Regions from separate parts of the Homo sapiens genome. Here region 2 is linked to region 1. Evidence: fine-mapped expression QTL. A gene starts in region 1. The other region holds a variant in brackets. All regions are shown on one strand. Distances are from middle to middle. Region 1 holds the start of AKAP13 (A-kinase anchoring protein 13). Region 2 overlaps AKAP13 (A-kinase anchoring protein 13).

What was found. PIP is the estimated chance that this variant, and not a neighbour inherited with it, causes the effect.
Region 2: its variant is fine-mapped to the expression of AKAP13 in whole blood (TOPMed, PIP 0.94).

The regions. Positions count from the first base shown.
Region 1 is chr15:85,377,688-85,383,064 of GRCh38, forward strand. AKAP13 (A-kinase anchoring protein 13) reads left to right here and starts at 2,916. Exons shown (of 37, transcript NM_007200.5): 1 at 2,916-3,111. It overlaps MIR7706 (microRNA 7706), which reads left to right and starts at 2,909; the gene lies at 2,909-2,975. RefSeq lists silencers at 2,767-2,846, 3,227-3,796, 3,453-3,620.
Region 2 is chr15:85,542,954-85,548,330 of GRCh38, forward strand. AKAP13 (A-kinase anchoring protein 13) reads left to right here. Exons shown (of 37, transcript NM_007200.5): 5 at 819-1,002. Among named protein-coding and RNA genes, the nearest start is that of AKAP13, 170 kb to the left of the region's middle. The variant G/C (reference allele first, on the strand shown) is at 2,450.

The DNA of each region.
Region 1 (5,377 bases):
TTTAGGGTAGACTCCTGCCTTCAAAGTTGGGTTTCAGGCTGGGCATGGTGGTTCATGCCTGTAATCCCAGCACTTTGGGAGGCCGAGGCGGGCAGATCGCCTAAGGTCAGGAGTTCAAGGCCAGCCTGGCCAATATGGTGACACTCTGTCTCTACCAAAAATACAAAAACTAGCTGGGTGTGGTGGTGTGAACCTGTAATCCTAGCTACTTGGGGGGCTGAGGCAGGATAATCGCTTGAACCGGGGAGGCGGAGGTTTCAGTGAGCCGAGATCATGACACTGCATTCCAGCCTGGACAATAGAGTGAGACTCTGTCTTAAAAAAAAAAAAAAAAAAAAAAGTCGGGTTTCAAAATAGCTACGTCAGTAGCACCTGGGAGCTTTTTAGAAATGCGGAATCCCAGATGCCACCCCAGACTTACTGAATCAGAATCCACATTTAACAAACACTCCCAGGTGATTTGTAAGCACAGTAAATTCAAGAAGTGCTAGACTCTTAACTTTTCCTGCAGCCCACTGGAAAGGTGTAAATCCTGCTGAGGCGGGGAGCAGGGAACGGTGTTGTCAGTGTCCGTAGAAAGATGACATGGTAACATTTACTGCTGCCTCTGAAACAAACAAGCTAGGTTCTAAGGGGGAAGTTCACTGGGTTATCAAATGTTAGGGTCCAAGTGATTTTCTTGGTTAGCACTCTTGCTTCACAGAAGACTCAGGTTCTTTGAGAAGTGACCGGCTCATGATAGGCTGCTTCTCTCTCTGTGCCAGCCTTTTTTTTTTTTTTTTTGAGATAGGGTCTGGCTCTGTCACCCAGGCTGGGGTACAGTGGCATGATTTGGCTCACTGCAACCTCTGCCTCCTGGGCTCAAGCAATCCTTCCACCTGAGCCTCCCAAGTAGCTAAGATTTGGGCTACCATGCTTGGCTAATTTTTGTATTTGTTAGTACAGATGGCGTTTCAATTGATGCCCAGGCTGGTCTCGAACTCCTGGGCTCGAGCAATCTGCCCTCCTCAGCCTCCCAAAGTGCTGGGATTACAGGTGTGAGCCACCGCGCCAGGCCTTGTGCCAGTTTTTAAAAATCAACAAGGACAGATTAGAGAACAGTGGAAGAGGGTGAGCAGCATGATGAAGTGATACAGAAATAATTTCACATGAAGAACTGGGCATGTTTGGCCTTTCTTTTCTTTTCTTTTTTTTTTTTTAAAGCCATTCGGTGAGGGTTACTTAAGAAAATAGGGCCGGGTGCGGTGGCTCATGCCTGTAATCCCGGCAATTTGGGAGGCCGAGGTGGGTGGAGCACCTGAGGTCAGGAGTTTGAGACCAGCCTGGCCAACATGGTGAAACACTGTCTCTACTAAAAATAAAAAAATTAGCCGGGTGTGGTGGTGGGTACCTGTAATCCCAGCTACTTGGGAGGCTGAGGCAGGAGAATCGCTTGAACCCTGGAGGTGGAGGTTACAGTGAGCTGAGATTGCACCATTGCACTCCAGCCTGGGCAACAAGAGTGAAACTCTGCCTCAAAAAAAAAAAAAAAAAAAAAAAGAAAAAAGAAAAAAAGAGAAAATATATGTGAGCACCAGAGCTCAACATTAGGAGCATTTCTGAGATTTGGAGCTATTCAACAATGGAAGTTCCTGGCACACACATCAGGTATTCACAATACCCTTTCTCAGGTGTTTGGTCACTGCTAGTGAGCCGCCTGGATCAGTGTTTCCCAAATGGCAGTCATTTGCATCTTTGCTTTTCTTTTGGGGGCGGGGGGGTAATATCCTGTACCAGATTTTTGAAAACTGACATTAAAAATACATGTTTAAAATGTGCAAAGTGCACTAAAGTGCACTGGATGTATTTTTTATTCATGTATATACTTTTGTTATCTATCACCCAGGTCAAAATACAGAACCAGCACCCCAGAGGGTTCCCTCCTCCTCCTTCCCAGCCAATAATCTTCTCCTCCTACCTAACCGCTGTTCTTACTTCAATCACTATCAACTAGTTTTACACGTTCTTCAACTGCATATAAATTGTCTCAGTTTTTTACTTAACACTTTTCTTGAAGTGCTTTCGTTTTTTGCCACTTTTTATTTGACCTAAGAAATAACATTAATGAAACAGTGGTTTGACGTGATAGGCATTTCCCTCCTAATGCGCACTAAAAACACTTAACTATTTGAAAAAAGAAGTTTCTTCGTGTACCAACTAATATATTCTCCGCCCTGTCTCCAGAAACCGCCCTTCCTCTGTGGGCCGGTGGTTACCGGCACCATTGGTACACGGACCACATTTTGTTTCCCAAAGCAACCAGATGATTTTTGAGGTCCTTTGCAGCTCGAACACGGAATGACTTTGTGGTGATCGAGTAGCCAGAAGTTCACGGAATGCACTGTCACAATTGTGATTCCGCCATAGCGCCGTGCATCCATCCAACACTTGTTTAATACCTATATTTAATACCTAATACCTTAGACGGTCCTAGGCTGTGGACACAGAAGACTAAACCCCACTTCCTGAGTTGAAGTGGGGGAAATAGAGGAGTAAATCATTTCACGATGTGTGGTTAAGTGCTGCAGCTCAGGTAACCACCAGTACACAGAGGAAGGGCGGTTTCTGGAGACAGGGCGGAGAGGAGACCGTGGGTGGGCATTTCCCAGAGCAGCCTCTGCCAGCCACCCTACTTTGATCACTTTGCCGCCGAGCAGCAGCGGCGGTCAACCTCAGCCTCCCTTAGCAACCTGAGTGCCCCGTCCAGGAGCCTTACTATTGGTCTCATGCAGCGAGATGGGCAGTTCTGCCGTGCAATCCCAGCTCGCAGTTCTTGCTCCGCGTGTACTCACGGGAGGACTCGCAGGCGTTACCGCCTTCCCGCGTGCCCCGCCCACCCTCCCGAGCGTCTTTCGGCGCATGCGCGGACTGGAGCTGTGTGCAGGGCCAGCGCGGAGCCCGAGCAGCCGCGGTGAAGCGCCTGTGCTCTGCCGAGACTGCCGTGCCCATTGCTCGCCTCGGTCGCCGCCGCTTTAGCCGCCTCCGGGGGAGCGGCCGCCTATTGTCTTTCTCCGCGGCGAAGGTGAAGAGTTGTCCCAGCTCGGCCCGCGGGGGAGCCCCGGGAGCCGCACGGTGAGAGCGCAACTTAGTTGGCGGAGTTGGGGGAAGTTTTGTGATTTGTGGGTCGGGGCGCGGAGCGCGGCCAGTCCCCTGCGGTTGCTCGGTGGGGCGGGCCCCGGAGGAGGGGCGGGGGCTGCGGGGGTTTCGGGGGCGGGCTGGACAGACGGGTCGCCGGGCGGCGCCGGGACCTCAGGTCTGCGGACCCCTCCTCCCTGCGCATCGCCCTTCTCCCGCATTGTCTGCTTGGGGCTCGGCGCGCCTCCCACTCCGCAGCCCAACTTAGAGGCCGTCGCCGCTTTCCGGGTGGGGGGCGCGCCCGGCCGCCGATGCTACCTCAGGCGCTCCGCCCCCAGCGAGGCCCCGAATCCTTGCCCCGGGTCCCCGGGTCGGCGCCGCCGGGGCGGGCTCACTCCTCCCCTGGGGCGGGCGGCCGCGGTGTGGAGTCCCCGCCGTGGAGTCCGCGCCGTGAACAAGTGCTGCGGGCGCGAGGGAGCGGCTCCCCGGGGTCGACGCGGACGGTAAACACGTCGGGCCGCGCCTGCCTGTCGGTGCCTCTCCGCGGCTTCTCGGGGGTGCGGCCCAGCTGACCCGCGCGGGTCGCAGGCGAGCGGCCCAGGAGACCCGTGCGGTCCCCACGCGCTCTGGGACCCGTGCAGCCAGCCGGCTCAGCTTGCAGCTATACTTTGATACCAAACAAAACTTTTTTTTTTTTTTTTGGTAAATACGGTTTACTGCTTTTTTTTTTTTTTTTTTTTTGCAAAGCCACGAAGTATGTGAAGTTGAAAAAAGGAAAAACCCTAAAACTTTTTAAAAAAAAATCAAGAAAGGGGGTAGATAGGTTTGTTTTGTTTTGGAAATAGTTCTTATAGCAGAGTGATACCGTCCCATTTAATTTTCTAGATCCCGGAATTCACAATGAAAATTGGATTGAGCGGTATTTTGGTGTTCATTCTTTGCTAATGACACTCCTTAATGAAGTTATTTGGAGAGTTTATTGCTTCAGTACAGTAAAAACCAGTGTGCCTTTTTTTTTGTTAGTAGTCCCCCCCACAACAAGTGTTTTATTTTTAGAAGAAGCATTTTCTTCAGTTTTTCTGAACTGTTGGATTGCGCAGATGAGGACAAACGGTGCAGTTCTTGAAAGGTCATTATTGGCAAGTTTGTGAAGAAGCTAAGATCAGTTGAGATAAATCATTGTTACTATTCTTGTATTCTGTCGTGGACTCTTGGGGATTTGCAGGCTGCATTAAGTACAAGTTTTGTCAAGTTTGGGTGCACATATTACACTTAATTTGGTTTGTGTGGCTTATTATATGAACATGATTCTGTTTCAGTTCCCCAGATGGAACTAGCTTAAATGTCTGTCATTCATAGTGGAGCAAAATGGCCAGAGTGTCATTTATTGTTAACTTCAGTTGTATTCCTTTACCATCTGCTAAATGAAAAAGAAAAATTTGAGAAATACTGTGTGTGTCAGTTTGCTCAGAGTGATTTCTCGTGCTAAGTGAGTCCTGTGGAGAAGCGTTCCTGGGCTTTTCTGGTTTGGTGGGCCTTGTGTTATAAAACCAATTTTCTTCACCTGATGAAGCTAAAGACAAATTTTCTTCAGGTACAGCCATTGCACTTTTAAATTACAGAGCCGCTTTTAGGATTCACAGTACTCGCTCCATGGCTTCCCTTCCTGGTTGTGTGGTTTTGTGTGTGTGATTGTGGGGAAGGAGGTTGACAGAGGTTGGAAGGGATTGTCAGGGAGGGACATAATGTAAGCAAGTACTACTTACAACATGACGTGACGAGTGCACTAGTTGCTTTCCTTCTCTGGGCGGTGATGGCATGTTATACTGTAGGTACTATTGTTTTAGGATTTCTCACACTTCTTTTGCCTTGACTAAATGGTAACTGCACACATACTATACTATAAATGGACTCCTCCTCTAGTCCTTTAACTCCTTGAGGGCTGTGATAGACCTTATTTAGCTTTTTACCCTCTTTGCCGGTAGTCTTAACATAGTGCAGGCACGGTACGTGTTTGAATTGGGTAAATTATTTTTACTGCCTAGTGGTAGCTAGCGTACACAGGAGAGAGCCACTAACTGGGGACCTGTCCAGAATGACAGTTCACTTGCAGATCTGTGATGACATTTACTTTAAAAGGATTTCTAACCTTTTTTTAATCTGTCAATTATTTTTTGAAAAGAAGTGGGTTTAACTAGCGCTCTAAGGATTTCAACAAGAGGTTCCAATTTAGAAATCAGCCCCCCCCTTTTTGTGAAATTAT
Region 2 (5,377 bases), 170 kb after region 1:
ACATGAATCACGCTTGGTCACACAGATGGTAAATGCCAGATTCGAACCCTGATTTGTCTAACTACAAGCCCTTCCTCATTCTGTCACTTTCAGAGTGACTCACTTTACTAAGAGGGAGCCTTTATTTCAAGTTAAATAAACGTTTTCCTTTCTGCAGTTATTAGTGGATTGTCTTAGAGTTAGTCTTCCTTATTGTGCCAGGAGATGCATTTCTTCCTCTCATTAAACAAATAAATAAAGCTGGCAGTGCCAGAAATTTGATTTGCCCTTATTGTGTAGGAATAAAAAGACCCATGTGTACTGAACAAGCAGAACCTGTTTTTAGTGTTTAACTAGCCAACTCCTGTCTGGGTGTTCTTTTAAAAAGTAATTATACCATTTATGATACACCCATTTAAGTCCCAACAGCTATTCCCTCTTGGACCTCATGTTGTGGGGCTGCATTTGCTTCTGTTATTATTATTTGAGTAAAAGAACGTGTGTATGGGTCGCCTTTATATGCCTGCCTGTGAAATTGGTTGAACAAACACTGTGTATTAAGTCAGAATATAGAAATGTCCTGATTCTCTTTTGCAGGACTGTGTTCGATTGAAGATTTTGCTTCCTATACTTTCTATGCTTTTGTAGCTTTGTTTTGCCTTTACTTGAGGGCTGATTCTACCTGGCCACAATAAAGCTGTTCACACTGTATGTTGTAGCTTAACTTTACAATCTTAGGCACTTGGAGGCAGTGGTGTTTACATAACTTGTCTTTATGTTTGTTTGTTTTTTGTTTTTATATTTTCCTCACTTACGTTCATTTTCTCCCCCATTTACAGATGCTGGCCCGCGAGAGACATTGATGCATTTTGCTGTGCGGCTGGGACTGCTGAGGTTGACGTGGTTCCTGTTGCAGAAGCCAGGTGGCCGCGGAGCTCTCAGTATCCACAACCAGGAAGGGGCGACGCCTGTGAGCTTGGCCTTGGAGCGAGGCTATCACAAGCTGCACCAGCTTCTAACCGAGTAAGTGCTCCTTCTGCCTTATTTCCCTCCTCTCATCCCCAGCCCCACCCCCGATTCATAGGAGTACCACCCACTTGGCATCTCATTGTGTGTTTGCCGCAAATTAAAACCTCAGCTCTGTATCTTGCCTTCTGCTGGAGGTTTGTAAGCTTGCTCCTGCTAACCACTTCATTGTCTGAGAGAGAAACGTAAGTCGTGTTAACCATTTTCTCTCTCGTCTGCCTGCCTGCCTTCTTCAATTCTTATCTCTTATATTTTACTATTTTACTCAAAAGTCAGAATGAGCCTTGTCTGTGGAGGTAGCATAACATTACCAATGTATACAGTTTATCCTGGTTTAGTACAAGAGGAAACAGATTTCCTATATCATATATTTTTTTCTGGTATGTCTTTAAGACTTGAAAGAGTTAATTAGAAACCAGTACTTCCATATTATAATTGCATACAGAAAATATTGTAAACAATTAAGTTTTGGATTGAATGTAATTTCTGTGAATAAAATTTGAGAGCAGTGGTTTCTTCATATGAACAGCAATAAAAAGCAACTGAATTGTCCTGGAAATGTGCAGTAGGAAATCCTGTCTGTTTTTGGGCTCAATTATTATATGTCCTGACTCTTTAAAGAGTTCTCTAGAGGAAGGTTGTTAGTCAAAACATTTGAAGAGCGCTCTTTTATTCTTGTATAAATAAAGAAATAAACACACTAGAGCAGCCAAAAGTTTTTATTGGAATGTTTATATAAAGAAGTTTCAAGAATAGTTTCTGTTGTTTAATACATTTTTATTAGTTTTGTGGTTATCATCATTATCTTTTCCACCACATTATCTGAACAAGTATAAACCCATTGGATCTATGTTCTTTAGCAATTGAGGGACCTGTGCAAATTGAGTCAGTATTAGCAAATTCTCAGATATTTTGCTCATGCCAGATTTAATTTAGTTGTGCTTTATGTTTTACCATTTTTAACTGTGTATATAGTCTGGAAGGACCAAAAAGAGACCTCAGAATGTAGTGCTACTTACGGTTATGTAAACAGCTTTTTCTTGATTCACTTGCCAGGCTTATACCTTTCCCCATCACGCTAGACAGACAGTTCTTTGCAGAAAGCTTTCTGATGGGTGCTACAGATACAGTGGTGGTAGGAGGGGCACTTATCTCAAATGAGCTTTGGATACCTGAGCTCTCCTAAGACAGTATTCCAGGGAGTGATACATTCTACTCCTTCACACTTCCCATCTGGCCAATGATTGGATTCATTCTACGGTTAGCCTCATGGCCTCAGGAAGAGAGGCCTTGTTTCAGAAGTTGAAACAGTTAACTCTGCATAACTATTGTGAAGTTCAAATGCATTTCCTCTAAATTTGATTTTTGCTGGGAAGCAGAGTTGGTTAAGGACTGCCATCCAAATGGGGAAATAAAGTGATTACAACAGCTTCATTATATCCTT[G/C]GAGGGGATGTCACAAGACTGTTATTGCAGCACAGCTTTAAGGAAACTAGAGTGTGTTTGTTCTTTGACTTTTTTTTGCTTACTTTAAAAGTACTACTTCTGTTACATGTGGGAAAGCCACTTACCTCCTTTTGAAGGGAGATTGGTAAGGGAAAACCAACCTGAGAAATCACCAATAGAGGACCCTGATAGGAGAGGATGAGCACCTTGCTGCAGATCTAGCTCTTAACTTGAATTCTGGGATGTTACTGTTGTGAAGCTTAGAAAAAGTTCTGAGTCATAATTAGCGATTAAAAAATGGAAAGGGGGCGATTGTCCCAAATCACTCAGTGTGAGAGTGATTCTAGTAGAATTTGGTAGAATTTCAGTTGTTAAAGAATCAAGAATGATCATTTTGTTATTGGTTTTCTTTTCTCCTTTCCTTCCCCTTTCTTTTCCTATATACATAACGTAAAAATGGTTAAAATAGTAAATTTTAGGGACAGCATTCAGTAGCATTCAGTACCATCACAACACTCACAGAGTTACGTAACCATCACCACTATTATTTCCAGAACTTTGTCATCACCCAAACTGAACTTCCTTTTCTCCAGCCCCTGATAACCTCTGTTCTCCTTTCTGTCTCTAAGAATTTGCCCATTCTAGGTACCTCATATAAGTGAAATCATGCAACATTTGTCTTTCTGTGTCTGTCTTTTACATAGCTAATGTCCTCAAGGTTCACCCATGTTGTAACGTGTCAGAAAAACAATACGTACTTCAAAATTGCTAAAAAAGAATGTATTTCTCACCACAAAAAAATAAGTAGCTGAGATGATGGATATGTTACTTAGGTTGATTTTATCTTTCTATGGTATATACATAGATTAAAACATCACACTGTACCCCATAAATAAATTTATATAATTGTTGTTACCAAACACACACACACACACACACACACACACACACACACACAGCCAAAAGTGTAAACAACCTAGATGTCCATCACAGATAAATGGACAATGTGGTATATTCATATAACGGAATACTACAGCCTTAAAAAGAAAAGATCATCTTTAACAGATGAAACTGAGATCCAGAGAGACAAAGTGGTTGGATGAAGATAACAAGGTGGTATGACCAGAAATAGAAGCCAAAAGCTGTCCAGAGCTCTTTCCTTCCACTCCTGGGATTCTTAAAAAGTGGCCCAAGAATAGACTTCATGGGGTCTGTATCTCTTGAAATTATAAAGGTTTATGCACATGTTTTTCTGAATAAAGCATTTGTTGGTGAGATTCACGAAGGGGTTTGTAGAAAGTTAAGAATCGCCACAATGTATGATGCTATCTTTCTTTTTTTTTTTTTTTTCTTTTCTTTGAGATGGAGTCTTGCTCTGTAGCCCAGGCTGGAGTGCAGTGGCACGATCTTGTCTCACTGCAGCCTCTGCCTCCCAGGCTCAAGCAATTCTTCTGCCTCAGCCTCCTGAGTAGCTGGGATTACAGGCATGCGCCACCATGTCCGGCTAATTTTTGTATTTTTAGTAGAGACGGGGTTTCACCATGTTGGTCAGGCTGGTCTCGAACTTCTGACCTCGTGATCCACCCACCTCGGCCTCCCAAAGTGCTGGGATTACAGGCGTGAGCCACCGCGCCCAGCCATGATGCTATCTTTCTAATAGTTTGGGTATCTTCTTCCCCACCCTGCTTTTTAAAAATGAAATTGTCCACATATAAGCCGGCCTCTTTTATTGCCTCTTTTCAGTTAGTATGAAATTGAAGTATGGCTATGTATATTTTACATTTATTGAATAACTAGTTGCATTCTACACTTTACTGAAAAGTCAAGCTTATTTAACCCCATTTATAGCCCTTCCCAAGTACATTTGTTGTTTTAATTCCTTGGTGCTTTACCTTGTTTTTTGCTTTTTAATTTTTAAGTGGGGTGTGGGGAGCCTTGTGCTGGTTAGGGCCCAAGTTCTTTTTGTGTTTCTTTGTTCAAGGCTTATTTTGATTGCCAGTCTATTTTGATAAAGCAAGTCTTACTTCTGCGAAAATTATGATTAGCCATTCTTGGACATATAAGGATTCTCTAAGACCTATCCCTTTAGAAAACACTTGAACTTTATTTTAAATCCTACCAGATAGTAATAACTACTCAGGACATTTTTTTTACAGTTTCCCTTTTTTGTAACCCATGATTGTTAACTTTCACTTTGTTCAGTGTTAGGGAAGGCAGAGCTTTTGTTGACTTGCTGTTTCACTTTAGCTTATATTTAGATCTTACATTATGAATATGAATGCATTTGTGATCTGAAAATTCATCTTAAATACATTGTATTTAAGTTTCACTCTAAGTAAATGAAAGAATTCATGTAGGGAGCATAACTCAGTGATTGACATATATGTTATCTCTTATTTCCCTTTCTTTAATTTTCTGTCTTGCCTGAGAAATCTTAGCCCCAGAAGAGTACCCAAAACATGTAGGCCTACTTTTCCTTTAGTTGGACAATCATCTCCTCTGATTTGAAGACCCCACCCATGGTCACCTAACTAGTTAGTAATGGAGAGAATAGGTAAAGACCCCAGTTTGCAGGCTCTTGGTGTCATGAATGCTAGGAAGTGACAATATCAGATGAGCGTGGCATTGTAGTTATCTAAGAAGAAAATATTAGAGCCAGATGTTATTGGATCTGGCTGATCTCTTACTCACACATCTCAAAGTAGAAATCTTGGGACTTGGATCACCCATGTTGGGGGTATGAGGGAGCTTGAGAGTAAGAGGAGGCTCCAGCTAGTGACTAGGTGTGCAAACTTGGAAGTCAAACCTAGGTTTGCATTTTGGCTCTGCCATTTGCAAACTTTCCTTGCTAAGCCTTGATTTCTTCATCTCATAAATAAAGGATATTGCTATTTACTTCCTGGATGATAACCCAGCCTTTAGTGTATG